2 linked regions of the Homo sapiens genome follow. The protein of the gene in region 2 interacts with the protein of the main gene of each other region in a pairwise test. Each region holds a gene or a part of one and is shown on either strand. Other genes may lie near its edges.

What was found. Proteins that work in one complex are often made in the same cells at the same time.
Region 1: the proteins of PKN2 (region 2) and MYO9B interact in a two-hybrid assay, tested with the Homo sapiens proteins (one large-scale study listed by BioGRID and IntAct).

Annotation. Positions count from the first base shown.
Region 1 is NC_000019.10:17,078,777-17,082,276, reverse strand, and holds part of MYO9B (unconventional myosin-IXb), read right to left. Parts: intron 1-3,500. UniProt on the Homo sapiens protein: Myosins are actin-based motor molecules with ATPase activity. Unconventional myosins serve in intracellular movements. Binds actin with high affinity both in the absence and presence of ATP and its mechanochemical activity is inhibited by calcium ions.
Region 2 is NC_000001.11:88,802,773-88,806,272, reverse strand, and holds part of PKN2 (serine/threonine-protein kinase N2), read right to left. Parts: exon of another isoform or gene 2,482-3,500; intron 1,883-2,481; coding exon 1,739-1,882; intron 1,428-1,738; coding exon 1,352-1,427; intron 777-1,351; coding exon 602-776; intron 383-601; coding exon 256-382; intron 1-255. UniProt on the Homo sapiens protein: PKC-related serine/threonine-protein kinase and Rho/Rac effector protein that participates in specific signal transduction responses in the cell.

The DNA of each region.
Region 1 (3,500 bases), on a different chromosome or scaffold from region 2:
GCCTGCTGCCGGCACCTTCACAGACCCCACTGGGCTGTTAATTTGACTTCCATGCTCGTGACTCCTGGCTGAACATCTGAACAGAGGCGAGGGCTATTTCTGTTCTCCTCAGTCTCCCCAAGGGCCAGCTCTGAGCCTGGCTCCCAGCCAATACTTCCTTTTTGCTGAAGGATTTTAAGACCTTCCAGAAACTTCTTTTGTTCAATCACTTGTGACAGCAGTTGGTCCTAAGGTCACTTGGGTCCAAGAGTGTAGTTACTTTTGGATATTCCTTGCCCCTGACCCTGGCAATACTGAGAACAGAGATATACCCCCGCCCCATGCCCTGTTTGTAAACTTCATCCTGCTTCCCCACCAGGCACACGCAGCCTTGTGGACCTGGCCCTCAACACATCCCCTGTAAAATCCCATGGGACCCACTCCGCCCTGGGCTGGGTCCTCGCCTCTTTTTTTTTTTTTTTTTTTTGAGATGGGATCTTACTCTCTTGCCCAGGCTGGAGTGCAGTGGCACAAGATCACGGCTCACTGCAACCTCTGCCTCCTGGGTTCAAGCAATTCTTCTGCCTCAGCCACCCAAGCAGCTGGGATTACAGGTGTGTGCCACTACACCCAGCTAATTTTTGTATTTTTAGTAGAGACTGGGTTTCATCATGTTGGCCAGGCTGGTCTCAAACTCCTGACCTTAGGTGATCCTCCCACCTCGGCCTCCCAAAGTGCTGGGATTACAGGCGTAAGCCACTGCACCAGGCCTCTCACCTCTCTTTAGTCACCCCTGAATGTATGAGTGTGAGATCTGGAAAACAGGGAGCGTCCAAAATTGATGTGGCCAACCAACCTGCTCACCCTTAAAGTGTTTATTTAAAGGAGTGAGAAGAGACAAAATGGACCTATTCTCTATTGACACGATCATTTCCCTCCAGGTTCCTATATTATCTAAAAATGTAAGTTGAGGCCGGGCACGGTGGCTCACATCTGTTATCCCAGCACTTTGGGAGTCCGAGCGGGCTGATCACCTGATGTCAGGAGTTTAAGACCAGCCTGGTCAACACAATGAAAGCCCATCTCTACTAAAAATACAAAAAGTAGCTGGGCGTGGTGGCGCACGCCTGTAGTCCCAGCTACTCGGGAGGCTGAGGCAGGAGAATCACTTGAACCTGGGAGACAGAGGTTGCAGTGAGCTGAGATCGCGTCACTGCACCCCAGCCTGGGTGACAGAGTGAGACTCTGCCCCCGCCCCCAAAATAAATAAACAAATAAATAAAAATGTAATTTGAATTTGTCCTTTTCTCAGTATTATGGGCTGAGCTGTGTCCACCACTCCCCTCCACAAAGAAATATTCACATATTGAAATCCTAAACCTCAGAACTTCAGAGTATGAGTATATTTGGGATTTTTTTTTTTTTTAAGAGATGGGGGTGTCGTTCTGTCACCCAGGCTGGAATGCAGTGCCATGATCATAGCTCACTGTAGCCTCAAACTCCCAGGCTCAAGCGATCTGTCTGTCTCAGCTTCTTAAAGTGCTGGGACCACAGGCATTCACCATCATGTCTAGCTAATTTTAGTATTTTTTTGTAGAGATGGGATCTTGCTATGTTGTCCAGGCTGGTCTTAAACTCCTGGCCTCAAGTGATCCTCCTGCCTCAGCCTCCCAAAGGGCTGAGATTACAGGCGTGTGCCACCAAGCCTCGCCTAGAGACAGGGTCTTTATGGGGATGATTCAGTTAAAATGATGTCATTAGGGTGGGCCCCCTTCCATATGACTGCTGTCCTCATAAGAGGAAATTTGGACACAGAGACAGGCACAGAGGGAGGACGATGTGAAGACCCAGGGGAAGACGGCTATGTATGAGCCAACAGAGAGAGGCGTGGAACAGATTCTCACAGCCCTCCGAAGGCACGAACCCTGCCAACACCTTGATCTTGAATGTGATCTTAAACGTCTGGCCTCTAGAACTGCAAGCCAATATACTTCTGTCGTTCTGGCCACCCAGCGTGCGGTTCTGTTACAGCAGCCCTAGCAAACTCAGGCACCCAGCAACAACAGTCATGAAACACCCCTAGCGGGGCTCCTTCTCTTGCACATACAGCCCTGTGCAGCAGGGCAGAGATGGGTTTTAAACAAGTGAGTCAGACAAGGATATCTTATTCATCACTCCGACGAACCCATGGGCTGAACCCTTGAATCACTACTTTATTTATCATCGGGCTCGGGCTCAGAAAGTCTCGCTGAGGAAATGAGTAGAACCCAAACTCGTCAGCTGCATTTCTGAAACATGCCTAATCTCTGAGGCTCTTTCCCAGCCACGATAGAAATTGAAAGGGAACGGGGCTCTGGGCTGCGGCGGTGGGCTGGTGTGGAGACAGAGCCCTTTGTTCTGCCACTCCAGGGACCACGAGGGCAGAAGAGAAGGGCTTGTCTTGCTTTGCCGAGAGGCCGCCTGGGGCCGTCTGAATGGCCGGCCGAGCAGGGGCAGCCTGGCACAGCTGGGCTGGGGATGCCGGGCACACAAAGGGCTGGTGGGTGGGGTGTGGGGGCAGCACCCAGAAGGGACCGTCAGTCCCGTGGCCCCAGAGCGTCTCCTCCAATCAAGGTAAAGCAGCAAAGTCACGGTCAAGGAGGGGGCCAAGCAGGGAAGGGGACAGCAAGATGGACCAAGAACAAAAATTCAGCAGTATGTGCTTGGGAACGGGCGGGCGAAAGGGCCCATGGAAGAGATAATGCAGCTTACAAAAGCGACGTTTATCCGGGGCAACCTCCAAAGTAGCTCTTGGGAGAGAATCTAATACCTCTAATCTCAGAAGAAAAGCAACAGATCATTCTAAGACGAGGACAGTTCCTCCAGAAATCCAGGTCAGTCACAAGACAAAGAAAAGACAAGGGCACCCGCTGTCCACCCTCGGGCACGTTGCCTACCCTCCCACAGTCCGTTCCTAACGGTTCCTCCTTTTTATCAAGACCCGCTCCCTCCTGATTAAGAACTGACTGGATGGCAGGATTCAGTTCCTGGTCTCTGCCCCTGTTCCCACTCTTAGTGGCAGTTCCTCAGGGGCTCCACAAACACCAAGGACCCACCAAGGCAATGATGGGCCCTAGAGGGGAACCAGGTTTTACTAATGAGCATCACATTTCACCTGGCGGGGGAGGTGATTCTGCCCCCAGGGGACACGTGGCCATGGCTGGAGTCATTTTCAGTTGTTACCCCTTGGAGGGGATGGAATACTACTGGCATCTCATGGGTGACAGCCAGGGACACTATTCCACATTCTACAGTGCACAGCCCCAACTGTCAATGGTGATGCGGGTGAGAAACGGCCCTGGAGATTTGGGTTTCCCCAGTTAAAGGTTACTAAGGATCCTGCATGTTTCTAGAAAGCTCAAGGAACCATCTCTGAAGTCATCACCTGCCTGGGCCTGTTTCTGTATCAGGAAGATAAGAACAAGGACCCTCGCACTGCCGGTTGGCAGAATGAGAGAGCTGGGATGCCCTGTACAGGCCGG
Region 2 (3,500 bases):
GCTTGCAGGAGAATCGCTTGAATCCGGGAGGCGGAGGTTGCAGTGAGCCGAGATCATGCCATTGCACTCCAGCCTGGGTAACAAGAGTGAAACTCTGTCTCAAAAAACAAAAACAAAAACAAAAAACAAACAAAAAACCATAAATTCACAGTTCAGTGGCAATTTTAAATGGAAAGACACGCCTTATTCACTATGATGCTTTTATTGCTAATTCATTCAGTGAAGAGGAATTATGCAAGGTTTAAAATGGCTTGCCTGTCCTGGTATATCCAAAACTCTTAATTCAGAAGATTCATCTATTTCTCCAAGAGAAGAAGCTCGTGGTGGGGCTGGAGGAGGTTCAGGCTCAAGATCAAAGTCCAATTTGGTTACTGTAGAATCACTTATAGAAGATAAAGTAACTCACCAAAACAGTAATAGAAAGTCTGTATTTTAAACAGCTTTAAAATTAAAGCAAACAATTTACTTTTTAAGTAAACAGAACACTACTTTCAAAATACTACTTGGGAAAAAAGCAAGACTCAGTACACCTGCTATAATCAGTACGTAAGAATGTCCCAATAACTTTGTATAAGAGATGCTTAAAATCTCAGACACATACCTAGCTGGAGGTGCTAGTTGAGGGATGCGTACATCAACCACTGGCACTGTAGTAGGCACAGGAGCTTGAGGGCTGAAGGTGCCAGAATGATTTACTGTAGGAATAGCTCTTCTTACTAGCCTTCCCCAAGTGGCAATATTAATATTCATTTGAGGAGCTCTGAGAAATGTTTTGCCTGTAGATGTTGAAAAAAACAAAAACAGCAAGTAATTTCTTTATGTATAACCAAAAGTCATAATTTAAAAATTCTTATCCATTAGTTTATAATCTACGAAGAACAAACAAAATTTGTCACTTAAAAAAACTAGTTTTTTACTATTTGCTAGTAAAGGCTAATGCAAAATAGCATACGTAGTTTTAAAAATAAATAGGTAAGAAATTGTTTTTTTCTCTTTAAGTCTAGTAGTAAGGTTTTAAAAATAAATCTTATCTTTTAGATATAAATTATAATAATTATGAATACATCAATATGATGTCTGGGTTTGCTTCAAATTTGAGAAAGTAGTGAGAGGATGGCATATGGATAAAATAAAATTGGCCATGAGTTGATTATTGTTGAAGCCGGGTGACTGTACATTTCACTAGTCTCTCCACTTATGGATACATTTAAAATATTCCTTAATAAGAAGTTAGAAATAAATGAATAAACAACAACAAAAAAACCCACACAGATGGCTATTACTTTTTAAATGGTAATTAGATTGTTTAAGAAAATATCAAAATGCTATGCATTTGATTGTTAGTAATTACCTTGTTGCTTTGAAAAAATTTTCTTTTGTCTTTGAAGTTTTGGTCTTCTTTCAATAACTGGATTAAAAAAGGTAACCTGCAGTGAAGAAAATTCAAGTTGACATGAAAATAGCATGGTTCATGAAATCTACTAAATTTATAAAATTTTAAAGCTTAAGAGAATCTTAGTTACAGTTTAGTCCAGCCCCTCATTTTCTACATGAGAAAACAGACATAGGAAGAATAATTGATTTGTCTCAAAGTCACATACCTATTCAGTGGCATAGCTCAGCCAAGAACTCAAGTCATCTGTCTTTCAGCCTAACACTCTTTCTACTTCTATATTATGCTGCCTACATATGTAATTTCAATTGTAGTTATGCACATTTAATAAAATACATTTATTACCTCTGCAAATAAAGTACCCTGTGGTTCCAAATAGAGACACATGCCATGCCGTTGGTTGTCTAAAAAATCTTCTAACCTCAGAAATTTTACAGCACACAGAGACCGCCAATCACGCCAATAAACTGAAATTTCCAGTTCACGTGACTAGGATAATTAAAAAAAATAATAAAGAAAACAGAAAAGACATCATTGGACACACACTTGAATAAAATATCACAAAAAATATGAAATACAAATACAATAAACAAAAATTACACACACAAAGGTCACACTGTTTTAAAGAGGTTTGTAACATTTCTCAACTGTATAGTACTTTATCAAACTTACACATTTTAATTCAAAGAAACAAAACTTACATTGTGACATTTTCCAGCTAAGGTATTCCTAAAGTATACTTAAAGAATACACAACTGGGAACAACCAATACAGATGAATAACCACCGAAACTCCTTCTCTTAGAGCTTCAATCTTTCAGATTTCCCTCCTCTATTTGCCATCATGTGCTATGTTACTACCCCAATGCTTGCTTCAAATAACTCATTTGAAACCTTTGTATTTATTTGTCTCATTGCTAAGCCAGAAAAAGTTCTGCAAATAGCATTTATTCTGTACTCACAATGTGCCACATATTGTGCTAATAAGCACTTTAAGAATATTAGGTCATTTAATTTTCAAAAGAATACCACTGGGTAGCAAGACCCATTCTGCGTACGAAAGGAAGAAAGGGGAAATTCAGACCAAGCTTTATACAGAAAGATATTCATTTATTATAACAATAAAACATAATTTAAAAAGCAAATTAGCAAGAATTTGAATGTTCAAAAACCAGGGACAAGTTAATTATACCAAAGCCGTATGAGAGAATACACAGTAGACACTGAAAATAATGCTTATGTGGCGAAATATATTTAAGGTTTTAATAACCAGTGTTTAAATGCACCTGTAGAACATAGTTCCTAAGCTGTGGCCAAACCATATACTGACCTCTACCTATATGTTTTAACGTATATACATTTTAATCATAAAGTACTGGACTTTTCTATTATTTTGTTTTTCAGGCTTCTGTACACCATCCACAAAAAGAGATAAATGTTTCTCCTTTTAAGGCTCTACAAAGCAATAAATTACTTATTTTATATAACAAATTTCAATTTATAAACTTATGCATTTCATTATGTAACGTTTTGGTATAAACAGTAAAAAAAAATCTATTGACCTTAAATTATATATCTAGTTGATGTTAATGAACACGAAAAACACTTATAAAAAATGCAACATGAAAAGAATCAAAATACAATGTGCCAGAGGGTTTCACAGTCAAACAGGAAAAGAATTAGAAAAATACGTCTATGGCAGTGAGAATGTGATCTCAGGGCCTTCCACCTCATTTCTTCTCTCTGACTCATAATTAATATGGGAGAGAACTGTCATGAAAGAAGTATGAGGAGAATATAATTAAGACTAGCAAATGGCATATAGAAGGGATGGGGTACTAAGGCTATAATATTCTATTGAAGTTAAAAGTGTTAAGTATTTTGGAAGCAGTTATTTTGTGAAATAAACTGGAGGAAGAATCATGTCAGGATTGGTAATTTAGACTCCATTTTTTTAGATTGGAGGAAGAGAGGTCTACTTTCTCCTGCTTTCTTCCACTGTTACAAGGAAGACTTGTTATGCATCAGGAAGATGCAAGATGCACATACGCTAGAGACAGAATTAATACTTGTTAAAAGTTCTTATTACACTTTTACACTGGCTAAAA